7 separate regions of the Homo sapiens genome follow, and regions 1, 2, 4, 5, 6 and 7 are each linked to region 3. Evidence: fine-mapped expression QTL. A gene starts in region 3. Each other region holds a variant in brackets. All regions are shown on one strand. Distances are from middle to middle.

Region 1 (4,175 bases), 280 kb before region 3:
GCAAACAGGGATAATTTGACTTCCTCATTTCCAATTTAGATGCCTCTTATTTCTTAATACTTTCAACTTTTCCCCATTAAGTATAATGTCAGCTGTGGGTTTGTCTTATATTTTCTTTATTATGTTGAGATATGTCCTTCTAAGGCCTAGTCTTTTGAGGATATTTATCATGAAGGGGTGCTGAATTTTACTGAAGGAAATTTTTGCATCTATTGAGACGATCATATGGTTTTTGTCCTTAATTCTGTGTCTGTAATGTATCAGATTTACCAATTTACATATATCGAAGCATCCTTGCATCCTTGAGATAAATCCCACATGATCATGGTATATTAATCTCTTTGATGTGCTGTTGTGTTCTATTTGCTAGTATTTTGTTGAGGATTTTGTGTCTATGGTCATCAGAGATTTTGGTCTGCAGTTTTCTTTTATTGTTGTCTCCTTATCTGGCTTTGGGATGAGGTTGATGCTGGCCTCATAGAGTAAGTTAGGAAGAATTCCCTCCCCCTCAATTTTCTGGAATAGTTCCAAGAGGATTGGTATTAGTTCTTCTTTATTATTTGGTAGAATTCAGCTGTGATCCCATCTGATCCTGGGCTTTTACCAATGTCATTTTTCACAGAATTAGAAAAAAAAAATCCTAATATTCATGTGGAACCGAAAAAAAAAAAAAAAGCCAAAGTAATCCTAAGGGGAAAAAAAGCTAGCTGCATCACACTACCTGACTTCAAATTATATTACAAGGCTATAGCAACCAACAGAGTATGGGACTGATATTAAAATAGATACCAAGATGAATGGAACAGAATAGAGAACCCAGAAATGAAGCCACATACCTACAACCAGCTGATTTTCAACAAAGTCAACAAAAATATACACTGGGGAAAATGCCACCTTATTTAATAAATGGTGCTGGAAAAAATGAATAGCCACATGCAGAAGAATGACTGGACCCATACCTCCTTTCACCATCCACAAAAATTAAGATGGATTAAACACCTAAATGTAAGATCTGAAACTATGAAAATCCTAGAAGAAAACTTGGGAAAAACTCTTCCGGACATTGGCCTAGGCAAATACTTTATGACCAAGTTCTCAAAAGCAAAAGCGACAAAACTAAAAATAGACAAATAGGATTTAATTAAACTAAAAAGCTTCTGCACAACAAAAGGAACAATCAACAGAGTAAACAGACAGTCTATAGAATGGGAAAAAATATTTGCATTTGACAAAGGGCTAATATCCAGAACCTACAACGAACTCAAACAACTCTACAAGATAAAAAAAAAATTAAAAAGTGAGCAAAGGAATGAACATTTTCCAAAAGACGTACAAGCAGCCAACAAACACACACAAAAAAATGCTCAAAATCACTAATCATCAGAGAAATGCAAATTAAACCCACAATGAGATACCATTTTACACCAGTCAGAATGACTATTAAAAAGTCTAAAAACACTGTAATTCTGGCTATTCAGGTGGCTGAGGCACAAGAACTGTTTGAACCCAAGAGGCGGAGGTTGCAGTGAGCCGAGATTACTCCACCACACTCCAGCCTGAGACAGACAGGGACCTTGTCTCATTTAAAAAAAAAAAAAAAAAAGTCTGAAAACAACAGATGTTGGCAAAGATGCAGCAGAAAAGGGAACGCTTGTAGGAATTTCAGTACAACCTTTATGGAAAACAGAATGGAGATTACTCAAAGAACTAAAAATAGAACTACTATTCCATCCAGCAATCCCACTACTGGGTATCTACCCAAAGAGAAAGAAATCATTATATAAAAATGGTAACTGTAATTTGTGTGTTTATTGCAGCACTATTCACAATAGCAAAGCTATGGAATCGACCTAAGTGCCCATCAGCAGAAGACTGGATAAAGAAAATGTAGTATATGTAACACTACATTATGCTATTCAGCCATAAAAAAGAATAAAATCATGTCTTTTGCAGAAACATGGGTGGAACTGAAGGCCATTATCCTTAGTGAAATAACTTAGAAAGTCAAATACCACATGTTCTCACTTATAAGTGGGAGCTAAACAATGGGTACATATGGACCGTGGAGTAAAAGACACTGAAGACTATGAAAGGTGAGAGGATGGGAGAGGGGTGAGGGCTAAAAAGCCACCTGTTGAGTACAATACTCAATATTTGGGTGATGGGTACACTGAAAGCCCAGACTTCACCACTACACAACACATACATGTAAAAAACTTGCACTTGTATCCCCAAATATACAAACAAATAATTTCTTTGAAAAGTTTTAACATACACATTTACAGTGCTTCTCAACAATTTCTGCCCTATGGTATATAGAGAAAATTATACTCTTTATATGAGACATGAGTAAACATGGTTTGTATGTGCAGCTGGAGTGAACTAGCCTGGGGGCTCCAGCCACTCTCAAACTCTTCATCTCTTCTCCACTCCCAACAATTGTTTTTGTAAAATGACACACTTTTATTG[T/C]CAAAAAAACACAGTCAGATCAGATAGTTTTAAAAATGAATGTCACCATTTAGAGATAACCATTGTCAATGCTTCACTAAAACATCATTCCAGTTTCTCTCTACACATATACAGACACATCAGTTGCACACCCCAGTTGTGAAACTCAGTAATAAGGCATGATTTACACATATTTGTATTAACGCTCCAACTGAAGACTTTTTCATCTTTAAGCCCTGAAAGTGAGAAAGGAAAACCTAATAAAGTATGATCTTTTGTTAATAACATGTTTTATAATTTTCTAGCTCATATATATTGTTCTTGCTCTACCTTCCCCACATACACAAGTAATCTAGTTTTCTGTGATCAAAACTATTTCCTTGAAATCTACACCCAACTTGTACCCAGAAATTAGATTTAAAACTCTACCTCTAATCCAACTTTTAAGATATCTTGTTCTTAACAGAATTAGAAATATTCATTTTAATGGTTTCTAAGTCATCAGTTCTATGAGAATGAAATATTTTCCCAATCCTTAAGACATGAAACATGAAAAAAAAAATTTCAACCACCCAAATAATCCATAAAAATCAATTAACCTAAGTAGTCTATTGAGAGCAGGTCCTCTGTGCAGTTTTGATAATCACAGACATTGAAAAACATTATTGTATTTGATTTTACTTTTTATCTCCCAATAACAAATCTTATACAGCAGAGGCTATTTTATGGAAGTGATAAGGTTTACGCCAGATTTTCAAAATTGGGTAAAATGTATAAAACAGAAGAATAAAAGCAAAGTTGGAACTAATGTGGTCTTAGCCTGATTCAAAAAGCTCACTGTAATGGGTTGAATAGTGAACCCCCAAAATGATATGCCGAAGTGCCAACTTCCAGAAACTGTAAATATGACCTTATTTGGAAAAAGCTTTTTTGTAATTAACTTAGGATCTTGAGATAAGAGTACTGTGAATTAAGATGGGCCCTAATCCAAAGACAAGTCCGTTGAAGAGAAGGAGAAACAAACAGAAAGACAGAGAAGACCATGTGAAGACTGAGGCAGCAACTAAAAAGCTATTTCTACTAGCCAAAGGATGCCATCTTGAGATCCTAAGTGAATTACGAAAACCCTTTTTCTAAATATTATTGTCTCAATTTTACAGTTTTGTCATCTATGAAACTAAGGCAAGATTTCTCTGACTTGATATCACATAGGAAGGGACAAAGCAAAGATCTGAACTCAGGAAGTCGGGTGCAAAAACATGTGCTTTTAATTACTATATTATAACCTCTTTTGCTTGAAGAACAAAGTGGACCTTGGGGTGTAAAGGAAAATAAACAGACATATAAAGAGGCCAGGTTACAGAGACTTCAAAATACAAAGGATTTTGTCCATGATGCAGCATATAGAGAACAAACATTTCGGGCTTTTAATGCATTGCCCAGTTCATTGCATTGACTCCATCTCCAACCTCTATCTTGACCTATCCAGTTTTCTCCATCTTTAATGCTGACTAACCCACTAGTGTCAACCTTCTTAGTAGTCTCCTACTTCTACTCTTGCCTATTCAAACTATTCTCCACAAATAAGCCAGGATTTATCTATCTTTTAAAAACAAGTCAACTCACTCCTCTTAACACCATCAATGACTTCACAGGACTCTTGAAACAAAATAAAACTCCTTGCCATACTCTAGCAAGGCCCTAAATGATCTGGCTTTCCCTTCGAC
Region 2 (4,175 bases), 340 kb before region 3:
CTAGCAGCTTAGCATAAATCAAAGCCTTGGCACCAAACTTTACTGAGTCATTGTACTCTTCACTGCCATGCACTGTCATTAAAGCAAGCAAAGTCTGTTTTATTTAAGAATGTCTTCGATGAAGGAGTAAAAATCTTAGTTCCATTATATCTCAAATTAAATGTGTTTTATTATTCTGTGTGGTGAAATGGCAAATACACATAAAGCACTCACTGCAACTAGAGTACAATGGTTGTTTAAGGAACAGCACTCCTGGTTGTTTCCGTTGCAAGCTGAACTAGCCACTTTTTTCCACCAAACACTTTTTACTTAAAGGGACAACTGACAGATAAGCTATTATTATTTAGACTTGGATTTTTGGCAGACATTTTCACAAAAATGGACAAAGTTAATCTGTCACTTCAAGGAAAACAACTGACAGTATTCATTACCAATGATAACATTAAAGCTTTCAAGCAAAAAGTAGAAGTTTGAAAAACTTACATCTGTCACTGTGACAGTTATAAGAAAGCCTTATATTGCCACTGTAAGAGCTTACTAATATCATGACTTTTCTGATGCAGCAGTAGTAATATTAATAAATGGGATTTGTTTATGCTGTATAATAAAATGCATAAACATTTGGAAGATATATAACCCAATGAATCTATATTTTCCAAATGACCAATACATGCATGGGTAAAAGATTTATTCAAGGTGCAAGATAAACCAATGGATTTTGGAGTGAGAAAATACAAAAAGTTCATTGATATGGCATCAGATTCCACACTGTAAATAGTCTATAGGAAAGTACTACTTATTGAGTTTTGGTATAATATCAATATAATATCAAAGAAGAATGTCACAATTATCCATCAAAAGTGCTATAAAATACTCATCCCTTTTCCAGTCAAAATGGTGAGATAGAGCCAAAAAAAAAAAAAAAAAAGAATGGGTGGTTAAGTGGAGTGATGGAGTGCAAAGTAAATTATCCAATTCCATCACATGGTTCCTTAAGAAGACTTGTGCACATTACAATACATATTCTGACTTGCATGTTGTTTCAGTGTGATTTTGCTTCCAAAAGATAAGACTTGTTAAGTGTTCTTATGCCCTCAGGCTACTATAGTCACTTTATATATCCCCCTAACTGGGGATAAGCATCTCCCCTCCTGTACCCCTTTATCATCCTTAGGCAGTGGCTGGTAGGGATGGAAGTATGAACATCTACCTCATTTAATTTGGGTTTGAACAGACAAATAATTCATACTCCAGAGCTCTCATGAAGGTTTAGACTAAAGCTATCCTTGAAAAGACTTTGCCTAAAATCATACCTCTTCTTCCCCATTCCCTTTTTTTCCCATTCTGTCACTCCCTAATTGATTACTCCTTTTTTTGTTTTGTTTTGTTTTCTGAGACAGGGTCTTGCTCTGTTACCGAGGCTGAAGTATGGCACAATCACGGCTCACTGCAGTCTCGACCTCCCAGATTCAACCAATCCTCCTTTCTCAGCCTCCTCGGTAGCTTGGACTACAGCCATGTGCCACCATGCCCAGCTACATTTTATTTTACTATTTTATTTTTTTATTTTACAGACAAGGTCTCACTATGTTGCCCA[C/G]GCTGGTCTTGAACTTCTGGCTCAAGCGATCCTCCTGCCTCAGCCTCCCAAAGTACCAGGATTACAGATGTGAGCCACCATGCCTGGCTGTTTCTCACTTTCTTAATAAATTACTTGCAAACAAATCCTCATCTCAATGTCTGCTTCTGGGGAATTAAACCTCTGAGAGCTAGCAACAGGTCATTCTACTGCTTGATCATTGCGCTCTTTGATTTTCTGCTAAATGATGATCAATTCAACTACCACAGTAATGGGGGAGACAATGTAAAATTTCTCTTTATAGCAACATAATTATAGCTAATTGTGAAGTGAAATAAGAAATAAATTTTAACTCTGGCAACAATAACAACAAAAACAAAGTGTTGATTATGATCTTTGATTCATTTCCCCAAAAAGGGCATTATCAGGTACAGTATCTTTGAGTCTACAATAATTGTAACATGCTTTTTGGTAAACTGACTAGAAGGAAATGGAAGTAATATAGCAATAATACGAAGGGACAGAATGGAGAGAGCTACATAGAAAATACATGAGCAAATTTATTGTTCAAGATAATAATCAGTGGAGAAGACAAGACTGGAAATGCCAGTAAAAAGGGGAAGTGATTGGTGGATTCATATCCCTGATGAAATAGGAGGAAACAAGATAAAGAAAGAAGGCAATGGATAAGAGAAAGAATGAAAACAAATAAATTGCTCAGGTGAATAAGAAGGGGTGGGTTGAAGCTGCGTAAGGGGCTTTCAATGGTTCCAGATATCATTCTCTGGCATTGGTAGCACAGAATGCTGCACTTGCCACACACCACCACCTGGTTTCACCTTGCAAACAGCCATACAGTGCTCCATTTACACCCACACACATTTCTCACACTATTCTGCATTCTTCCATTACCACTACTTTTTTATCTCCTTCTCCATTTTCTATATTTCATTTGCTACCCGAAGTATTACTTTAAGAGATTCCCAAACTTCTTCTTCCAATCAATACATGTTCCCAGAAATCAATAAGGAAAGATGGAAGTAGAATATATTATAGGATATCTCCCTGTTTTCTTTTAAGCTTCGACTATAAGGATTAGTTATTTTTACAGCACCCAAGAGAAAACACTAGTCACAGGAAGCAGTTCCATATGAAACCAGATCTATCTAAAACTGCCTTTGCCAGTCCCAAAGGACAATGTTGAAAAGGAATCCCAAGAAATAAATGTGTCTACAAAATTCAGAGCCTATAAAGACAAAAACTGAGGAGAAACACTTAATAAAGCTACTCCCATACTCTGCATAAGCCAGAAATAAACCACTCCTAATATGGCAACCACACAATAAACATCTAATGCTCAGAATGTTTGTCAAAAGTATGTTGGTCAAATGTACTATCTTTCAACATTTAACATTTTATCAATAAAGAATTCCTAGAAACAGAATTCTGGCATCTACAAAAAATATATATATCACATAGTAACCCATTTTAAAGTTAATCCAGAGTGGTATTTATAACATTTTGAGTAAATCAATACCTTGGAATGATATTTCAAAAACCACTTCTACTATTAATCTGTTGTCTCATTAGTTGTATTTGTTACAGAACCTAATATGACAAGTTTTGATTTCGACAGCATGTAGTGATTTCAGAACCGATTCCATTGAAACCTAGCCATAGGCCACAGAAATCTATCAGAAATAATGTCAGGATTGACTTCAGATGGGCCAACCAAGAATTCCCTCATTAAGAGATTATCTGCTGTTGAAATACGTTTATGTTCATGTTTAAAACAAACATTTCTGAAACACAAAATAATTCTACTCCTCTATATTCAAGAAAAGGTACTAACCACAAGACAATAGCATATAAATAAAAGCCACAAACCTGAAAGGCTGTCAAGGTGGGGACAGGAGCACTTGGAACACAGGCTGGAATACAACATGTGTCTGGCTCAAGTACTTAACTTGATAAAGTCAAGTCTATTTCTATCAATTTGTATTAGGAGATGAATAGGTTCTCATTAAAAAAAAATGAGACTCAAAAAGAAAAACTTTTATTAAAAAAAATCAAAGGTGTCAAATCTGGAAATACCTCCCAAAAGCCAGGAAACACTGAGTTCTAAGCACAAGAACCAAGACAGCTTCCTGATGGTCCTTGAGACCAGATGGCCAAGACCAGTACAGACCCACAGGTCCCATCTCTCAAGTGTGTGTTAGAAGTGCAAGAAGACTGGGGAACTAGTCTGCAGAAGTATCCATTCCGAGAAACTGACCATACATAAAGTTTGGTGAGTTTTGTATGAAATTTCCTCTATTGGGCAATGGCAGCATTTATGCCTCTGAAACTTTGTCAAAAATGCATAAATATTCTATAGTTATTTGCAGAAGAACTACATTTAAATATAGCATATCCTATGGCTATCCATCTTCTTGGAGTTAACAAAGGGTCCCCACCATCTTAGGTGAAAGGTATTTTACAATGTTATAAAAAAAAATTAATGGATATATGTAAAAACAAAGGTAAAATAATTTATACCTTTCAAAAATGACCAAGAAGTAACAGTTAAACATGGTGCAAAGAGGTAATTCAATAAACA
Region 3 (4,175 bases):
ACTTAAGCTGCATATTTAGTATGTGTATATATGGAACAAAAAGTTGAAGAAACAAGTATCAAATTGTTAAGTGGTCATCTGAAAGTGGACTCATAGGAAACTCACTTATTGCCTTTTATACCCTCCCAGATTTAATTCTAAATAACTTTTTTTTGACTTTTTATTACTCTTATAACCAGAAAAAGACAAAGAACTATTCTAGCTTAGATCTTTTAAATGAGGCTAAATGCACAGAAACCCATGCAAGTTAAAAATGGTCTACTTTCGAATTTATTTTTCTAAGTACATCATCCTTTACACTCTCCATGATTCCTAATATTAGGTCCTTCTTATGGAACAACTACAAAAGTTATCCTCATCTAATTATTATACTCGTACACTGGAAAATGACTATAACATTATTCATTATAGGAAACAAATCATCAAGGTCAGCCATCCTTGTAAGTTTATTACTGAAAGTACTAGAAAGGCGGAATAATAATTCTGTTCTCCCACAACACTGTATAGACCTGCAAACCACTATGATCAGTAGTACAGGGAAAGTCTTGTAAATTAACATGTAACTATTGAGAAAATCCACAAAACTGGTGAAAGGCCTACCCCAAAACAGCCATCTCCAATACAATCTCATCATTCTCACCATCCTACTTTTATCAAAGTGCTGATAAAAGTGCGTAGCACATGGTAAGAGAGAATTAGCTATTGAATCAATGAAGGAACCCATTATCAATAAACAATCACTTCCTGTTTTCCATAAATTATGTGGTCACCTATCACTTGAGCACAAACAAATAGGCACGTTCAGGACACAGGCAGCCAGTATCAGAATAGGCAGCCTATCACAGAGGGCAATTCTACTTTTCCTGTGTAAGAATCCAAGAATGCAGTTTTACTACATTCCTGCTTGTAGCTAATCTGAATTTCAACTAATTTAAAACGGTTATTTATATGTGACATATAGGATGCATAATGAGCTCCCAACCTTGTGAGAGGAGCTGTGTTTCATTTCACCATACAGGGGAGAGGGAAGCAGTGTATTAAAGAAGTGATAGAAAAGTCCCACAGAAGAACCAATGAAATAGACCACACTGAAAATCACAGTAAGCCTCAGAGAACTTCAGTGTCCTTTTTGGCAACTTTTCAAAAGTGAATGGAATGCTTGCCAGGAGGTACCAAGAGTGAAAGCCCAGAGAAAAAGGCCCAGCCTGGTCATCTCTCTCCCCTCAAAACATCTTCTTCTGTAAGCTTGAGAGATCCCAAAGAACTTCAACACTTGTAATCTTGTTACTAACTTTATGCTTTGGGGTCCTAAAGGATTTTTTCAGGAGTACCCTTTTAAAATGTAAACATCCCTAGGGGGGTTACTGTTCATTATCAAACAGGACCTGGATTCTTTAGTGCTATGGTCTCAGGGATTAGTCAAAGCTGGCTAATAAGATAGGGGCCGGAGACAGACAACTAGAGAGGACCAATGTTCCAAGGTAAAAACAGGTAAAGGGGAAGTGCAGTTTTCTGTCGGGTCAAGGGGCTAAAAGGGATCCACATGCCCAAGCTGTTAAACTCTATAGACTGTGTGAGGCTGAAAACAGTCCGGGGCCTGGAGCCTGTGACTTTGAAGGTGGGTCCTCCAGTTCCCGATGAAAAGGTAGAATCTGGGCCCAAGTTCCCCACGAGCAGTTCTGGACATCTAGCCCTTCTCTCTCTCGCTCGCTCTCAGGATAAAGTCCTAGGTCCTTCCACCCCTGACCATTCCTTACTTACCCTTTCTCCCGCTCTTCCTCGGTGAGAAGGGGTAAGTGGTTATTTTGTGCCCTCGCCCAATTTGGCCAAAACCCTAAAAGTAAAAAACGACAGACAGACACGTGCTTTAAAATCATGTTGTTCAAGCCTGACGCTCTCCCACCACCTGCCCAACACTTCCAGGCAGAAGGCAGCGCGCCCCCACAGCGCTCCCTCACGGCCAGAGCCGGGGGCCGGACTAGGCCCCTTTGTGAGGACTGGGAGAGGGCGCGTTGTTGGGGCGCCGGCTCGGCGGGGAGGAGCGGGCCAGCTCCGGGCCAGGTGTGCCGCCTGTGGCGCCGGTTTCTCAACCTAGTTAGCCAGTGGCACCAAGAAGAGGACTAGGCTGGGGTGGCCGCCGCACGCGCCTCAGATAAACACGCGCACGCACACATGCTCGCGATCACGCAGGACTCGCGGCCGCGCACCCCTCCGCCTCCCGGCAACGCCCGCCCCGCCGGGGCCGGGGCCGACTCCCAGGGAAGGGTCCCCAGCCCAAGAGACCACCAAGGGTCGGCGGCTACGCGCCCGCCGACCCCTGCCAGCCTCACAGCCCCCCACCCGCCGCCGGACGCCGGGCGCCCGCCCTCCGCACCCGCTGCGCAGCTCAGCCCGGGGGAAGTCCCCGCGCAGACCCCGCCCTCCGCCGGCGGCAAGCTCCGCCCCGCTGCCCCGTCGCGCGCTGGCCGCCCGAAGCTCCGCCCCCGGCGGAAAACTGGTCTCTGGACCGCCCGCCCAGGTCGGGCTCAAAATGCGGCGTGGATCTGAAAGGATCAAACACAACACTAATTCAGCAAGCTATTATTGAGCACTTGCCCTAAGCTCAGCAACGTACTAATGGGGGAGACTACAATAAAGAGCCGAAAAGTCTATGAAACTGTGTCTTCAGCTCTTCCTCTTGTTTTAGAAGCCAGGAAACAGAGAACCCTCACAGTTACTTAAGTACAGGGCAGTAGTGGCAAAGCACCTCACTAGCGATCTCTGGGCAACTCTTCATTTCATTTTTTCCTACTCATGAGCACTCAGGAAAACTATTCAGTTTTGCTGCCTCCAGGTAAAACAAAGTGAGTAACACAGGACAGGCGGTTTACTTGAGAGAAACGGGAATTTCATACTGAAGCTTTTGCCCTCAAATGGTACAAACTCTTTTTTTTTTTTTCCTGAGACGGAGTCTCGCTCTGTCGCCAGAGCGACACTGCAATCTCCGCCTCCCGGGTTCACGCCATTCTCCTGCCTCAGCCTCCCTAGTAGCCGGGACTACAGGCCCCCGCCACCATGCCCGGCTAATCTTCTTGTATTTTTAGTAGAGATGGGATTTCACCGTGTTAGCAAAGATGGTCTCCATCTCCTGACCTCGTGATCCGCTCACCTAGGCCTCCCAAAGTGCTAGGATTACAGGCGTGAGCCACTGCGCCCGGCCGAATGGTACAAACTCTTAACTGGGTTATTACAACCTACAAAGAAACCTTCTTATCCATGTTATTAATTATCCTAATTCAATGTGGTTTAAAATGTTGATGAAAGTACCCAAATCATGGTGCTCCAACAAGCTGGATGCCAACCAGGTACTCGTAAGTACTTGCAATTACAGGTGCGATATTTTCATTCCATATCATCCCAAGATGCCCTTCCTTCACGTGAAGCAGCCAGAAAGATCAACTACCAGATTCCGCATGATTGAGGAATTGATAAATAGAAAGGGAAGACCGAAACCGGCCAAATTTTCCCTTCGAAGTGAAACTTGAGAAACTTGCGTGCATTTTACCTGAGTTCCTTTCTCAGCAGATAAACTGTCAGACCTCCCAGATAGTGTCAAGGAAATGCAACTTTCCAGAACACTACATCTGGACAATGAGGTGCATCTGCTGCCTGTTCACAAACTCCTCTTCCTTACCCCTCCATAATTCCCTGCTATAGAAAGCCCTAACTTTAGTCTCCCTAAGACATGTTTGAGACTGGTCTCCCTGCCAGCATCACCTGCATTAAAGCCTGTCTTCCCTGGCAATACTCGTTGTCTCAGGGACTGGTTTTCTTTGCTAGGAGCAACCCAACCTAGGCTGAAGCCCAGGCATTTAGCAGCAGTGGCACCTAGAAATACTGAACAGACATAAAATACTTTTTTTCTCCTTTTCTTACTCCTCCAGTTGTATCTTCATTATTTCTGTCTCTATTCTCCCTCTAGATACTGCCAAACTACTCTGTGCACTTTCAGATCACTTAATACTAATGTAAATAACAGACATTCTGGCACTCTTGGTTCAAAATTTATTCTAAAGGTTTAAGAATCTACTCAGGGTCTTAAATAGCCTGATAACTAAAATTCCAAGAGTTTCCTAAAGAGAGCAAAATTGCTCTCCTGTGAAGGGGATATGTCCCAGTTTTTCTTACTTGTCACT
Region 4 (4,175 bases), 360 kb before region 3:
TTGTTAAAGCAGCCCAAATAGATATTAACCAAGCCACATGCAAAACTAGACATTAATTTCAAAGCCCATCTTTTGAAAAGTAGCTTCTCCATTTGACTAAACAGGTTCCTAGTGTTGTAATAAATAACATCATTTGACCCATCATTCAAAGCGTAATTGTCACTTGAGAGACAATTAAAAGTTAAATGAAGAATTTCTGTTTCCTTTGATATCAGGTTATAAATTTCCATGACACCCACTCTTGGCAGAAAAAGTCAGTGTAATTAAAATCCATTAATGGAACTTAAATTTGTCTGGAAAAGGAAGCTGTTAACTGGAGTGCTGGCCCCTAAGTCCACCATGCTAACAATTCTCTGATAACAAGTTTCAAGAATCAAAAATAACTGTACTCACGCACTCATAGCTTCCTGTCATGTAGAATTCATTGTTATGGAAGTGTCTTCTTTCTCCCATGGAGGCCTATCATTTAAACTGATCTACTCCAAATAAACCCAACGGGGCAAAGATGAGTGTCCTCACAGTTAGTTTCACTCGTGAACCCAGCCAGCAATTCAAGTGCCTCCACTTTGTTCTAGGTTGCTGCACTCTAATGATCGACAGTACAGAGGATATGTAGAATTGACTCTTCACAGAGACTGGCTAAAACAGTGCTAAAATATAACATCAAAGGAAAATATTATCCAAGCAAAAAAGGAGTTTGGGGAAATGAACTACTTCTCTTTAGAAATGAGATAAAGAAATAATAAGCAACTTTACACTATGAACTCTATCTAGTTGACCCAATAATGATTGATTAGTAGAGTAGAAACAGAGATGAGTGTGAAGGGGATGTTAGGAATTTGTAGAGACCTAGCCTCTTGAAATCCATTTTGGAAAATGATGGACAGAAACAATCAAGCAAATAAAGAAATCCATAGGTGACCACCATATTGAGAGACCAAGTTTAATATAGATGGCTTGAGTATTGATCTCTTGCCCTAAACTATAAACATTAATGGTTATGGGGAAGTAATCTACCCTCTGTAAATAGGCCATTGGCCATCCAAAAATGAGAAGTGACTATTACAACCTCCCAAACTAGTACTATCTATTCAGACACAGATGCAAGTAAAAAGAAGAAGGGTGATATTCAAAGGGATGATAGTTCATTTGAGATGAATTAATTCTTGAAACAAATGCTAACATAAAAAGAAGTCAGTCACCTTAATAGGCAAGACGGTTTTTTTTCTTTTACCATATTCATTCAATAAACATTTATTGAGGGCATCCTATATACCAGGTGCTGATCTTGGCACTGGGATACAGCAAAAAACAAAACAGATACCAGTCCCTGTTCTCATGGAGTTTTTATTCTAATGAAGGAAACAAACAGAAAAAAAAATCAAGAAAAATATATAGTATGTCAGATGGCAACAAGCGTTTTGAAGAAAATGAAGGCAAGATAGATACAGATTATTGGGGAAGGTGTTACTTTAAATAAGGCAGTCAGAAAATATAAGGCATAGGTTTTTAAAACAATAAAAAAGAAATAATGTTTGGGAAAGAGTAGCCTAGGGTAATATTACATTATTATACTGGTTCTTTTTTTTTTTTTTTTTCAATTAAAACTGAAGGACCAAAGAAACCCAAGGAATTAGATTCATGATGCTACTTGTTCTGCTTCTATCACCATCAAACATTAGGTAAAATAATTCTTCTTTGCCTTCACCTTGTCCATTTTCTGGAGGAAGGGACATAGGTTTGATACAAC[A/G]AATCAAAAAAACAAAAAAGATCCTCGGGGTATTTATGCAGTATAATAAAGAGCAAAGCAATGTAATTCCAAAAAGATAGCTCTCAAATATTTGAAAAAAAATCACTAAATCCTAAAACTTCTCTTGGAAACAATTTCCATGTCTCAAGACCATTACATTGGTTACCCTTGTAAGAATTTTCTTAGGAATAGTTTAAAATGGTTACTTTGATAATACAAAAGATCTCACACTATAGAACTGCTGAATGGACTCACAAATCACTTATACTTTTAAAGTCTAACCATCCCAATGTACACTCAGAAAGGAAATAAATCTGACATTCAAAAAATATTCTTTTACCTTTTATAGTATCTACATTTTAAAATATTATTCTAAAATAATATCATTCCTCTAGTGGATGTGAAATTATCTTGTTCTGTCCAACAATGTTTCAACGACTGAGACAAATCCTGCTGTGATTAGTTTTGAAAATACTTTCACAAGCCCACATCGCTCACTGATGCAAATGTCTCATGAGAGGCATCTACCTTTAAAATGCAATTTGGGATCTGCTTCTGTTAAAAGTAAATTACAATATGAACTACAAGGGCATAAAACAACAACAAAAAAATCTCATTTTAGTTTATAATAAAACCTAGAGCATATCATCACCTCTGCAAGACAACATATATGAAAAAATATCTGATTAAAATTTAATATGCTGTACAGTTTTCCAAGCATACTAAGTATTAAATAATGCCAGTTGATCTATATTATGTGTATTAGCACATAAGCATAAAGTAGCTATATATGATATTATAATGATCTACCAGCTCTCTTTTCCCATAAAAATTCTGTACTATACTTTGTGATTTTGAATAAAAATAAATTTTTAAAAAAATAAAACTTCTTGGCTACCACCTATATACTTGAGGTACTTTCACATTTAAATAACATGTTGAGTACTTTCATATAAGAAATGATTTAATCTTTACAAGAGCTTATGTTTTGCTATCCCCCATTTAAAGATAAAGAAGCTAAGCCTTAGAGAAGTTAACTGACCTACTGAAGATCACAGAGTAAGTGTCTACAATTCAAACTGCTTTTATTGATGTAGTCATTACTTAAACATTGTTGGGAGTATATTGGGATGTAAAGTGTGACAATATAGTAATCAGAATGAATTCTTTTTCATCAATATATCAAACTTCATACACTATCTTAGTCCATTCCTCCTGCTATAACAAAATATCAGACTGGGTAATTTATAAGGAACAGAAATTTACTTCTTACAGTTCTGGAGGCTGAGAAGTCCAAGACCAAGGTGCCAGCATTCAGTGTCTGGTGAGGGCCTTCTTGCTGTATCCTCACATTGCAGGAGGGGCAAAAAGTACACAAGGGACAACACTGTGTCTTCACATGGCAGAGGTGGAAAGCCAAAAACAAAACAAAACAGGCCTAAGACCCTCCTTTCCACCTCTTTTATAAGGTCACTAATCCCATTCATGAGAGCTCTAGCCTTATGACTTAATCACTTCCTAAAGGCTCCACCTCTTAATACTATCACATTGGTGATTAAGTTTCAACATATGAATTCTGGGGGACATATTCAGCCCATCACATACATCAATAAGTGAAGCCCTTCACAGTGTTTTTACTTGGTTTGTTGTGTATTTCTTTCAAGGAAATTATCACTGCTACAGTTGTCCAAAGAACTTCTCTATGGAGATTGTCACAGAGCCAATTTCCTAACTCCTCAGGAAAATCAGTTCCATTGAACGTCACAGGACCTTATACAGATTAAAGGTCTCTTGCTAACCAAATATATATTTTTCTCCCTCCTTCCAACTTTACCTCTTTGAATTTTTGAATTCAAGAATTAAATTTGTAAACTATCCATATCAGTAAAAAAAAACATTAAATAAAAATTAATAATAACAAAAAATATAGGAGATTTACACACTTAAAAAAAAGATTAAATTATGAACTATAGGCCATGCCATCTTGCTCCCATTCTGCTCTCTCCCAGTTGCTGCTCTAGAGCTGAGTCTAATCCTATACTGAGTTCCACAGAGGAGCCCATGGGAACAAGCTGAGGCTGTTGATGAGGGGGGCCTTATTTGATTCATATCAGGAGTCAGACTAGCTGGGGCGAGTTCATTTGTGACCTGCTTGCATTAAGTGCCAATACATAATAACATAGAAGAAACTGGCTGGAAGCCTTTATGCATCATCTACAAGTACAATCACTTTAAGTAGAGGACCGCCTGCACAGCTCCAAACCCAAGTGCACACAATTAAAACGTGCTACAAAACACAGTGTTAAATCTCTAAAGACATCCCAATGATACCAAATCTGTTTTTCTAATGGCACACAAGACTGCTTTAAAACACCTCAAACCCTATCTTATTCTTACACAGCTGTGATTTTAAAGAATCTATAAC
Region 5 (4,175 bases), 170 kb before region 3:
CAAATGGTAAAATGTTAAAGTTGTAACTAGAGAATGTTTGATCTTTTTATTGCTGTTTTTAAAGGCAGATGTCCTGAGTGGTTCATTGTGGTTTCTACCATATAAACGTCATTTTACTCTACTGGTTACTTGGCTGTCATAAGACAGAAAATGAGCTGCCATAAGAAAAGCTGATGGAAAAGGAAAAAAATTACAAATATCTGATCCCATACCCAGGTCACTGTCTTCATCTAAGGCATAATTTATCTTTTCCAATGAAATATGTGTACATCTCAATTAATTATCCACTTACCCTCTACTAATCAGAAATAAGATTTGGTTCAGTAAGGCGGGGTGAAGGAATAAACTCAACCTACCAATTGCTCCACATGAATTTTTTTTTTTAATAGAGGCAGGGTCTTACTCTGTCACCCAGGCTGGACTGTGCAGCCTCCAACTCCTGGGCTTAAGCCTCCCGAGTAGCTAGGACTACAACCACATGCCACCACTCCCAGCTAATTTTTTTTTTTTAAGAAACAGGGTCTCGCTCTGTTGTCCAGGCTGGTCTTGAACTCCTGGCCTCAGACAAACCTCCCACCACAGCCTCCCAAAGCAGTGGGATAATAGGCATAAACCACCACTCCCAGCCTGCTCCACATGATTGATAAATAACCTGATATAATAATCTAGACAAGTCAATCTTTGCTGAATAAATAACTTCCCCATGAGTAATCCTTCCTATGCCCAGTTTTCCCCAATCCTTAATATCATTGCTCTTTTTAGACTCATACATTCATTCACTTAACAAACATAAACTGAATGTTTAAGATAAGGCAAATACTTTGTATGACTGGTTTTCTATTTGAAAATAGAGTGTGTGACTATACAAATACATATATACATAAAGGTACATCAATTTATATACATTGGCCCTATGTAACCCCCATTTGAGAATATTTCTAAGCATGCCAGCTACTCAAATTCAAGTGTGAAGGTATGTGTATTTGGGTGTGTGTGAATGAATGTATGTGAGAGACAAAGGCAGACAGAGAGAGGGAATGGATAAGAAGCAAGTAAAGTTACAGCAGACAAGGACATGAAAACTCATAAAAGACTCATGATAAACTGTAAATACATTTAAAGAAAAAGAATAACACAAGCCTTCACTCCCCTTCCCTGTGCGATCATAATCACTGCCCATCAACTTCTCTGTCCATATCATGTGTGCTCCCTGTGTTCCTTGAAGGTTATGTATAACCAAGATCTACCTTTAATGTGTTTGGCAAAAATATCTGTGCCATAAACTATTAGCTGACAAGCAATTATATTCTACCTTGTAAAAGAAAATTAGGCATAAAATAACCCCACAAAAAGAAGAGAATGACTGTTTCACAAAAGAGGCAAAAGAGATTTAAACAAGATAATACCATAAGTTTCTATCTCACCATCCATTAATTTTAAATTTGATTTTGCTTCTTATATCACATAGCACTTATTCAAAAATAGCAGAAGAATACTTCTATCTATCTGTTGTCCTGTAAAAAGAAAAGAAAATACTATTATTTGTATTTCTTGTTCAAACACTCTAAGGATAAAAGTACTGTTTTCAAAAATGATGAGGTTCCTGCAGATAACATTTACCCACAGGATTTGAGGCTTTTTTGTGACATAAAGTGCAGAGTACTTTGAGGATGGTTACAGATGCAATGGCACAGAAAAGGCTTTTAACTTTGGCTCATTTCCTCTGACCACCATGTCTCCATTCTAAATTACAACCTCTCAAGCTACAGATCCTTTAAAACTAGCTTTTAAAC[C/T]AGCTTTCTGTGGTATCATCACAAAATAAGAACACTTTGTTACTTGAAAATAAAAGCACAAAATTATTGGACTCAATAACTGTTCTCATTATTGCAAACCAATAAACAAGGTTCAACAAGAACTCGTTTTAGCTATTGCTTATCAAGCTGCCAAAAAATAAATCCAAAAGAAACCAAAGAAAAACCTGCCTTAACAATATAGATGGTTTCTTATTCATAAACTATCTTTAACATCAAAAATGGCTAGCATGTATGCCAGTGTTATTGCCTTGCATAACAGAATCTTAAGCTAAGCACTAAAGTTCTGTCATTCACATCTAGAATAATAATTTTTTTTACAAAAACTAAAATACGGCCAGGCGCAGTGGCTCACACCTATAATTCCAACACTTTGGGAGGCCAAGGTGGGCAGACAACGAGGTCAGGAGATCAAGATCACCCTGGCCAACATGATGAAACCTCATCTCTACTAAAATACAAAAAATTAGCCAGGCATGGTGGCGCGTGCCTGCAGTTCCAACTACTCAGGAGGTTGAGGCAGGGGAATCACCTGAAACCAGGAGGCAGAGGTTGCAGTGAGCCAACATCACACCACTGCACTCCAGCCTGGAGACAGAGCAAGACTCTGTCTTTAAAAAAAAAAAAAAAAAAAAAAAACTAAAATACTAAATAACCCCATTTTTAATAGAAATTTGTTTTATGATATAACCCATACCAAATGCTACCTGCTCAGCCAAATCACTTTTAGAGTCCACACAGCCCTTTATATCTAAAAGAAAATAATAAAAGTGCTAGGAAACAAGAAGTATCTGGGCCAGTTACCCTTGGTTAGGACTGAGAAATTAGCTGGCACAGACAGCAAGACCGGGACCAAATATTCAACCAGTTGGCTGGGGATAGTGGGTTGAGGTCAAGGAGATGACCCATACAGCTGTAAAATTAAGTATAAAAAGGGGAAATTGGGCAAACAAATAAATATACTGAGGATAATGGGAGCCAGGTTTTCTAATGTTGGAGAAGGAACCTACAAGTACAAAAAGGGGAAGGAAGAATAAACCCTGTCGTTTGGAATCGAGGAGATCAGTGGGAACATATATTTTTAGATAATCACTGATCAATAGATAGATAGATGGAGATGTATATGTATATATGTACGTACATATATACATGTAATGTACATATGTATTAGTCCGTTTTCATGCTGCTGATAAAGACATACCCAAAACTGGGAACAAACAGAGGTTTAATTGGACTTACAGTTCCACATGGCTGAGGAGGCCTCAGTATCATGGCAGGAAGCGAAAAGTACTTCTTACATGGCAGTGGCAAGAGAAAAATGAGGAGGAAGCAAAAGCAGAAACCCCGGATAAACACATCAGATCTCGTGAGACTTATTCACTACCACGAGAATAGCACAGGAAAGACCGGCCCCCATGATTCAATTACCTCCCCCTGGGTCCCTCCCACAACACATGGGAATTCTGGGAGATACAACTCAAGTTGAGATTTGGGTGGGGACACAGCCAAGCCATATCAATATATGTATGTACATGCATATATGTACATACATATATACATATAATGTGCAAATCTGTATTTCCTAGGTTTGTTCACTGAAAAGATCTAGAAGCAAAGACACCTCAGTAGTAAAGAGCAATCTTAGACCCAGTAGCAAAGAGCAACCTTAGCATCCACTAAAAGAAACCAGAAGTCTTTGGTAGCGCCAGGGCTGGGGCAAGAAAAGTACAAGATAAGCTTGAACCACACCTTTTAACATGAGGAACTGAGAACATAGCATCGCTTTTGTGGTAATAATGCCCAAAATAACAACTTATTCATAAGGAAACATCAGATAAACCCAAGTAGAGAAACAAAACATAGCTGTACTCTTCAGAAATGTCAAAATCATTAAAGATAAGGCAAGATTAATGAAGATTCCAGATTGAAGGAGAGCAAAGAGCCAGGGCAGCTAAATACAAGGCTTAGATTCTGGACATATAAAGAACATCATTGGGACAGTTAGTGAATTATGAATTGAATCTGTGTAATAGACGGTAATATTGTATCAATACTAGTTTCCTATTTTGGTGGTTATACTGAGATTATGTAGGGAAATGTCCTTATTTTTAGAAAATAGTCACTGAAGTACTAAGGGAGTACTGGGGCATCATGTCTCCAATGTACTCTCAAGCCAAAAAAAAACTTCAAAATAATAATAATGTGTAATGGTAAGAGGAGAGGGAGGGCAGATTGAGAGAGAGAGAGAGAATATGATAAAGCAACTATAATAAAATTTTAATATTGAAAATTTGAGTGAAAATCATATCAGTTCTTTGTACTATTCTTGCAATGTTTCTACAAGCTTGAAATCATTGTCAAATG
Region 6 (4,175 bases), 920 kb before region 3:
CTTGGCTCCCAACAGTCACAGGATCCCTGCCTGAAGTTTAAAAAAAAAAGTCTAAACAATTTTTTAGACAAAAGGATATATTTTGTCTGAAAAAATAAAGGCAAAGGATACATTTCCTGGGAGTAGAAAAACAAAATTCCAGTGGAAGATAATGTTCAAATTCAATTCAAATTCTGTCTGACAAGGTTTGAATTATAACAAAGACTTTACTACTTCTCAGCTGCCATCTTTTAATTAGAATTGTGCTCTCAAAAGATATGTACGTGGTCCTCCATTTAGAAGACTGGAATAATATTTTGACACACTTGCAAAAATCATGTGGATAGACAGTACCAGGAAGGGGGTTAATTTTAATTATCTATCAACTGCAAATTACTATAATATAGGATACATGTTTCTACCTCCATTATGTATTTTTAGAAATTCATTATTATTAACTGCTGGACAGAAGGACTTCTGAAATGCTGAGCAATGGGCTCTATATAAAACTTCTCATTGCAAATTCATAGCCCTGAGGGAGTGTTGGTGTTGGTATTGTTGTTTTTACTGCAGAGTGAAGAATCTGAGTTGTAGGTAAGTTTTGTAACTTACTGGTTATGGGCCTCTAACCCCTAATGTGATGGTATTTAGAGGTGAGCCTTTAGGAGGTAATTAGGTTTAGATGAGGTTAATATGAGGGTGGGTCCCTTATGATGGGATTAGTGCCCTTCTAAGGGGAAGACAGAGAGCACACAGCAGAAGTCCACTGCTGTCTGCAAGCCAGGAAGCAGGCCCTCACCAGGGCCTGTGCTAGCAACTTGATCTTGGACTTCCCAGCCTCCAGAACTACTTGTTGTTTAAGCCACCCAGTCTATGTTATTTTATTATAGCATCCTGAGCCAAGACATTGCTCAACTTTTTCCAGAACTTAATTAGTAGCCAGGCTCTTTAACAGAAAATATACACCAGTTCAAAAGTACCACACTGCTTTATGTTCCACATACCATATTGGTTAACCATAATGCACTAGGCAATGGCATCCGAAGGTCATTGGCCTATCTTGAGATATCTTTATAGATTAGGAAATAAAAGTTTAAAAATAAGGGCTGAAAAACTGTGCTGTTGGTAGAGACTTAGATAATCAAATAGCCTTAACCAAAGTTTCTGATCAGTTCACCTGATAAGTCTCTTGACTTATTTTTCTGTCTACTAAACTATAAGGCATTTGAGGGTAGGACCCATCTAATGTAATAACATATGCCAGTTATTTAATATTTAGTGGCTGCAAAGTGTTGTTCTAAGTGATTTGCATGTATAAAGTCATTTAATCCTGACAACTCCATTAGATTTTTAATTGAAAATTAGACTATCAATTAATTGTTACCATTATTATTCTTGTTTGATAGATGGAGAAACTGCAACAGAAATATTAAATAATGGCTAGAGGAACTAGTAAGAGACAGGGCTGGGGATGAATGAAAGTAGCCCGGCCCCAGAGCTCCATCTCAATCCTCTGTCTCATTCACTGCTAAATCCCTAGTGCTCAGCCCAGAGCCCAAGAGTTGGCTTCACTAAGTGTGCATTGAATGCATACCTAATAGCCATTATTATTAGATGAATGCCAAAATCAGTCACATAA[C/A]CTTACTATGCATTAAAACAAGAAAGTATTCAGGAAATGGGGCTGAAATCTTGTCATTTAGGAACAGAGGAGGGAACTGGTAGAGGAGTGAAGGTTCGCTGGGGGTGGACTGGCTGCAATGCAGGAGGAAATAGCATCACTGCATTTTGACGTTATTTCTTGTAAGACTGATCTACCAGTATGACCACTAGCATTTTATGATTTTTAAGTGTCAGAATTTATTTTTGTAAAAATCAGAGAATCCATGTTCTTAAGGCATTTCAAATATGAAATGTATGAACTCTGTCAGACATCCCTCTGGCCTCCACTGGCTCCTGTGACTTTGGTACCCAGTTCCCACGGGCTTCTAAGCTACAGGCTCCAATGCAGCTGGTCCCATGGGACGCCAGCCCCTTCCTGCCAAGCATAGCTCCATCAAAGGAGCCTTTAGAGCCACTGCCTCTGGGAAGCTCCTCTGCTCTCACTGGGGCTGGCGGCCCTAAGACACAGCAGTTTTGATGTCTCGCCCTCACATGGAAGGTGGCTAACACTTGGCCCGATGCCCACTTGTCCCCATGACATATCCACCAGCCTCAGAGGAGCTACCTGTCAGGCCCAAGCTCTTGTTTGTTTGCAGAGAAGGTGCAATTGGGGACAAGAAAAGGTGGGAGCTGTAGGAGTAGAAAGGTCTGGGACAGTGGATGGTAAGAGCAGTAGGCAGGGAAGGAAAAGGGGGAAGGATTTGAGAGACCAAATGAGATTAAATGAAGCCACCAACCTAAGTCAGATATAAGGAATTACAGTCATAAAAGTATCATATGTGATAATTTAAAAAACCCACAATGTATAGGAATATACAGGAAACTTGCTACTAAAGGAAAGAACTTGAACTACACGTAAAAAAAAAATTGTCAACACCTCTTAGAAAAAAAAATAGATCACATTTCTTTATTTCAGAAGGCAGAAGAAATTGCAGAGAGAAAAATTTTAGATCAATGTAAGGAAAGTTGTCAAACAAATAATCCTATCTTAAATTTAATGGGCTGTCTATATGACAACACATTTTCCATCACTTGGGCATTTAAACAAAGCTTAGATAATTACTTCTCAGGGATGATATATATTGATAAAGACCTTCTAAATTCCTTAAATCAAATGTCCAGTATTCTTCCCCTCAATTGCAATAACTGCAAAGACGACCTTTCTGCAATCCCTCATAGCAAGAGAATTTTAAGTAGAAGGACTAAAAACCTTTATAAGATAAATAATGTTAGAAGAACTAAGGGCATAAAAGGGAATCTTAAAATATTTTAAATATCAGCAAAAACTGAGACAATAAAAACCCACAAACAAAGCAAATAAAGATGTTATCTTTAATTTTTATATAACTTAAATAGTAAGAATGGGTTCTGAGATGAAATTTTCAGACCATCCATTCCTCAGGATCTCCCTTTTTATTCATTGTCAAAGACATGCTTAAAATCAATTGTGCTCTGTTTGAGGAAAGCATTGCATTGTGAGAGGCATTTTCCCTCACCTTACCCTCTCCCATCTTTTCTTCCCTCCAAGAGGTCAATGCCTTTTGGATTTTATGAATCAGAGTTATGAGCTTGGACTCCCAAGTCCAACTCTACCGCATGGCTGCAGGATGACGAAGACTTCAAATAACATGCTACTGTTGCCTTATTCAGCATATCTGCTCTAGCAGCAAATGAGTGTTTTCAAATCTCTAAACACAGGATATTCACCAGGAGATTCTAGAATGTGGCAGGATACTTGGACTTGGCTCCCCAGCCTGTTTTTGAGGACTCCTTCCTGACTTCTGCTCCTCTCACTATACAGGAAGGCCATTCTGAGACCCAAATTACTCACCTTCTGCCTTCCTTTTCCTCTCTGAAAACCACTGCAATAAACCTCTACTCCTAGTTTTCCATGTGCTCAATCCCCATTTTCTTCTCCCAAATCCCCAATCCTCCCCTTTCTATTATTTCCCATAGTGGACAGTTAATATTTGCTTATCCTTAGAACAAAATTCTCTTGATTGCTAAATAGGTATAGAAAAGTAAATTTGACTATGCTAGACTTTTGTTTCAGGGAAATTCATGGTCAGAAAGAAGTCATATACTATATGCACTTTCCCAAAGAGACACATTTCAATTACGTTCTTCATTTTGGTAAAAATGTAATGATCATTCACTACAAATTATAATTAACTCTTTAGAACAGGAGAATTTCTTCTCTTTAAAAGAAAAGCTTTAATATGAACTTTTAAATAATAGCACACAGTTATTTCTATAAATTGATTAAGAATAAGTGACCAATAGAAAAAATACATACTCATGAGCTGGACCCAAGTTTAAAGGTTATATTTAATGAAGGTAAGGGGGCAAGAGAGGGACAAGATTTTTTGAGGAAAACAAATCTTTCCTTTCAGTTTCATGTTAAAAAATTACCATCAGAATTGTTTGTTATTATTACTTAATAAACTTTAAAAATGCATGTATATGTTCATTATTACAAGGGCAGGGAGGGATATGTAAACACACAGGGGCAAAGAGAGAGACACATGGAGGACAGG
Region 7 (4,175 bases), 330 kb before region 3:
TCTCGCAAAGTAAATATCATGTTTATTCTGTAGCTAAAATTTCTCCCCACAAGCAGAAATTGTTTGGAATATACAAAAAGACAACCCATTAACAAGTAACTTTAAGTAATGTAGTTGGATGGTCATTATAATACAAATGGTGCTATAAATTTCCCTTTAAGTATTGTTTTAGCTACATCCCACAAATCTTGATGTGTTTTCATTTTCATTCAGTTCAGTTCAGTATTTCCTTAATTCTTCTTTTATTTCTTTCTTAACCTATGGGTTATTTAGAGGAGAGTCATTTAATTGACAAATATGTGGAGATTTTCTACAAGTCTTTCTGTTATAGATACCTAATTTAATTTCATTAAACTCAGATAATATTCTTTGTATGATACAGATGCCAGTTACACCAGATTCATAGGGTTGTTCAGGTCTTCTATGTCTGTATCTATTTCTGTCTACTCTGTCCATCAATTACTAAGAAGGAATATTTAAATCTCCAACAAAAACTGGATTTGTGTCTTGCTCCTTGAAGTTCTTTCAGATTTTGCTTCAAGTATTTTGATGCTGTTATTAGGTACATAAATGCTGGGTTTTATGCCTTCTTAATGAACTAACCCTTCTATCATTATGAGATAATCTCTTTTTTCCCTGGATATATACAATCATGATTGGATTTGAATCTACCCTTTTGCTACTTGTTTTCTACTGCTTTTATCTGCCCTCAGCCTCTTTTCTCTCTTTTTCTGCCTCCCTTGGATTAACTGCATATTTTATATTATTCCACTTTATCTGCTTTCTTGACTTATTAGCTATAATTCTTTTAACTGTTGTTTTAGTGGTTGGTTCACAGTTTATACCTTTAATTTATCATGAACTGTCTTCAGGTAATATTATACCACATCATATATAGTATAAGAAATTTACATCAGTATTCTTACATTTCCCCCTCTCCCAGCCTTTGCACTACTACTATTATAATTTTACTTCTATATATGTCACGAAGTCCACAATATATTTTTATTATTTTTTACTTAAACAGTCAAATAACTTTAAAAGAGTCTGTAAGGGGAGAAAATTACCATTTTCAGTGTTCTTTATTCCTTTATATAGTCCAGGTTTCTAACTGATAACATTTTTCTTCTGTCTGAAGAACTTTTTTTAGCATATCTTTCAGTACAGGTCTGCCAGTGACTAATTTTTTCATCTTTACTTCATCTAAACAAGTTTTTATTTCATCTTTATTTTTGAAAGATATTTTCACTAGGTATAAAATTCCACATTGATGGCCTTGGACAGTGGCTCACGCCTGTAATACCAGCACTTTGGGAGGCTGAGGCAGGCAGATCACCTGAGGTCAGGAGTTCAAGGCCAGCCTGACCAACATGGAGAAACCCAGTCTCTACTAAAAATACTAAATTAGCCGAGCGTGGTGGTGGGCACCTGTAATCCCCGCTACTCGGGAGGCTGAGACAGGAGAATCGCTTGAACTTGGGAAGTGGAGGTCGCGGTGAGCTGAGATCATGCCATTGCATTCCAGCCTGGGTAACAAGAGCGAAACTCCGTCTAAAAAAAAAAAAAAATTCCACATTGATAATTTCTCTCTTTCTATAGTTTAAAAATGTTATTCTACTGCCTCTGTGTTGCACTGTTTCCAAAGCAAAGACTCTTAACCATCTTTGTTACTCTGTACCTGATACGTCTCTTTTTTTTGGCCTTCTTTTAAGATTTTCTCATTATCACTGGTATTAGTTTGATTATAATATGCCTCTGTATCATCTTCTTGTGCTTGGGGTTTTTTTAGTTTCTTCTGAGTTTATAGTTTTTATCAATTTTCTTTCCCACCATTTTTTCAAATATTTCAGTCTAAAACTCTCCCACTTTCCTCCTCTTCAGCAACTTGAATAACATGAATACTGAGGCACTTGAAATTGTCCTACAGTTCACTGATTGTCTCTTTTTTAAATTAGCCATTATTCTCTCTGTGGTTCATTTTGGGTAGTTTCTATTGTTATGATGTCACCTCATTAATTTCTTTCTTTGTAGACTAAACTGTCACAGATCCATCCAGCAAATTTTTTTCATCTTAGGTCCTGTAACATTCATCTCTAGAATATAGATTTAAGTCTTTTTCACATCTTCCATTTCTGTGCTTAATGTCTTCAATCTTTCCTCTCCTTTTTTGAACAAATTAAATGTGACAATAACTATTTTAATGCTTTGTCTACTATTTCTCTCATTTGTGTTTTTTTTTAACTGATTGATGTTCTCCTCATTTTGTGTCATGGTTTCCTGTGTCTTTGCATTAAAAGTAATATTTTTACTAGCTTCCAAACATGATTTTCACCTTTTGGGGTGCTA[C/A]ATATTCTTGTGTCCTGAGGAACATCCTTGAGCTTTGTTTGAGAAAACAGTTAAGTTACTTGGGAACAGCAAATCCTATAGAAGTTGGCTTTTAAACTTTGTTAGGCAAAACTGGCACAGCCTTTAATCTAGGGGTGAATATGCTCCACTACTAGGCAATATTCTTCTGGTTATTCTATCTGATGCTTCGTGAATTATGAGGTTTTCCACTCTGGCTGATATGGGAACATGAATAATTCCCAGCCCTGTATAAATTCTGAAAACTATTCCCTGTGTTCTTTTGAGGTGATTATTTCTCCAGCTTTTTGTAGGTTCCCCACATACTGATGGGTCCTCAGCTGAGGGCTGTACGAGGACCTTCTGCATATCTATATAGTTTTCTCTCTGTGCATCTTCTCTCCAGTCAGTACTCTGTCCTGCAAACTCTAGCCACCTGGACTTCCCCAGACTCCCAACTCTGTCTCGTCAACCCTAGACTACCAACATTCACCTGGGTTCTCCTCCCTGTGCTGGGCCCTGGAAAAACCTCTCAAGGCAATCAGCTGGTACAATCAAAGGGCTTACCTCATTTGTTGCCATTCTTAAAGGATCACTGTCCTGAACTGTCTGATATTTAATGTCTGAAGACTCCCTTTCATACGGTGTATCTGGTCTTTTTTGTTTGTTTCTGGTAGGAAGGCAAATCATGTTCCTGTAACCCCATCTAGGCTGAAACATTCTAATACAATTAAATGGCCATTCTCTGGGAATAGAAAGTAAGAACTTACAACAGTGACGTTTCCATAACACGGAATATATAATAATTTTCAAATGGACAAAAAAGAACAAATAATACCCAAAAGAAGAAACTTAAATATCCTAGTTGATGGAATAAATATTTCCACACCCAGATATAATGTCTCACACATAGAAGGCTCAAAATAAATACTAAATTCATAATTCCTTGCTTTGAAGCTAATTAAAATTAGAAAAGATAATTCAGTAAAAGGAAGAAGAAAACAATGCTATCCTGTGCCTTAGATACTGAGTAATTAATTCAATTTGATGTCCTATAAGAATAATTCATAAAATTGTGTATTGTGTCCTGTTTTGATTTACTGGAAGATTACAAACTAGCATGCCATATTCACATGTATTTTACCTTCATCTGAAATAAGTTAAATAAGAATGATTTTATAATTTGTTTCTTTCAAAAAGTTATTTTTTGGCAATATTTAACATAGTATAACTAAGATAAACTATATATTACCTTGTTAATATTAATGGTTAATATTAATTTTAATAACCATATATTTAGGCAAGATTTAAAAACTACAAAATAGAAGAAATTAAGCAAAAATAATTTAAAATAAAGCATTACTATGACTATAATATTTACCTATAATCATAGAAATTACACCTTATAAATGTATATAATCTGTTTCTTTAAAAAAAAAAACTTTAGGACAATTTCTACCATCATTCGGAGGGTTCAATTAGTCCAATCTGCTGTTTAAGATCTAGAGGCTTTATTCAGAGAATAATGCAAGGTCAGTCACCTTAGCTCATGAGCTCTAAAGTAAAATAGCCTTCAAGATAAATAACACCTCTATAAATTACTTATGCTCCCTAAGCTTTACTTTCCTGATCTGTAAAATGGTGATAATGGTATCTATCCAATAAAGTAGCTGTAATAATAAAAGAATGCACAAAGAGCACCTAACATAGTATTTGGCACTAAGCTGGCTATTATTTTATTAAGTTTAATGTTATGCTGCCTAGAAGTAAAGCCCTTATGTGAAGAAGATGGACTCCAAAGCTGCATTGTCTTATATCCTATTCTCAAACAT

Alleles and levels. Positions count from the first base shown, and alleles are read on the strand shown. Sizes are in standard deviations (SD) of each study's normalised expression. Not every link is listed here.
As copies of A replace G in region 4, the expression in fibroblasts of the gene that starts at base 2,403 in region 3 goes up (small effect, 0.22 SD a copy in GTEx).

The links. PIP is the estimated chance that this variant, and not a neighbour inherited with it, causes the effect.
Region 1: its variant is fine-mapped to the expression of IMMP2L in blood mononuclear cells (TOPMed, PIP above 0.99).
Region 2: its variant is fine-mapped to the expression of IMMP2L in whole blood (TOPMed, PIP above 0.99).
Region 4: its variant is fine-mapped to the expression of IMMP2L in fibroblasts (GTEx, PIP 0.91).
Region 5: its variant is fine-mapped to the expression of IMMP2L in whole blood (TOPMed, PIP 0.99).
Region 6: its variant is fine-mapped to the expression of IMMP2L in spleen (GTEx, PIP 0.97).
Region 7: its variant is fine-mapped to the expression of IMMP2L in whole blood (TOPMed, PIP above 0.99).

The regions. Positions count from the first base shown.
Region 1 is chr7:111,275,982-111,280,156 of GRCh38, forward strand. The region is part of intron 3 of IMMP2L (inner mitochondrial membrane peptidase subunit 2); the gene reads right to left. Among named protein-coding and RNA genes, the nearest start is that of LRRN3, 190 kb to the left of the region's middle. The variant T/C (reference allele first, on the strand shown) is at 2,470.
Region 2 is chr7:111,224,782-111,228,956 of GRCh38, forward strand. All of the region lies in intron 3 of IMMP2L (inner mitochondrial membrane peptidase subunit 2), which reads right to left. LOC124901725 (a long non-coding RNA gene) reads right to left here. Exons shown (of 2, transcript XR_007060477.1): 1 at 1-4,175. Among named protein-coding and RNA genes, the nearest start is that of LRRN3, 140 kb to the left of the region's middle. The variant C/G (reference allele first, on the strand shown) is at 1,598.
Region 3 is chr7:111,560,090-111,564,264 of GRCh38, forward strand. IMMP2L (inner mitochondrial membrane peptidase subunit 2) reads right to left here and starts at 2,403. Exons shown (of 6, transcript NM_032549.4): 1 at 1,762-2,403. RefSeq lists a silencer at 1,935-2,564.
Region 4 is chr7:111,201,989-111,206,163 of GRCh38, forward strand. The region is part of intron 3 of IMMP2L (inner mitochondrial membrane peptidase subunit 2); the gene reads right to left. LOC124901725 (a long non-coding RNA gene) reads right to left here. Exons shown (of 2, transcript XR_007060477.1): 1 at 1-4,175. Among named protein-coding and RNA genes, the nearest start is that of LRRN3, 110 kb to the left of the region's middle. The variant A/G (reference allele first, on the strand shown) is at 1,751.
Region 5 is chr7:111,385,550-111,389,724 of GRCh38, forward strand. All of the region lies in intron 3 of IMMP2L (inner mitochondrial membrane peptidase subunit 2), which reads right to left. LOC124900232 (a long non-coding RNA gene) reads right to left here. Exons shown (of 2, transcript XR_007060475.1): 2 at 1-1,514. Among named protein-coding and RNA genes, the nearest start is that of IMMP2L, 170 kb to the right of the region's middle. The variant C/T (reference allele first, on the strand shown) is at 1,794.
Region 6 is chr7:110,635,372-110,639,546 of GRCh38, forward strand. No RefSeq gene overlaps it. Among named protein-coding and RNA genes, the nearest start is that of LRRN3, 450 kb to the right of the region's middle. The variant C/A (reference allele first, on the strand shown) is at 1,619.
Region 7 is chr7:111,233,918-111,238,092 of GRCh38, forward strand. The region is part of intron 3 of IMMP2L (inner mitochondrial membrane peptidase subunit 2); the gene reads right to left. LOC124901725 (a long non-coding RNA gene) reads right to left here. Exons shown (of 2, transcript XR_007060477.1): 1 at 1-4,175. Among named protein-coding and RNA genes, the nearest start is that of LRRN3, 140 kb to the left of the region's middle. The variant C/A (reference allele first, on the strand shown) is at 2,347.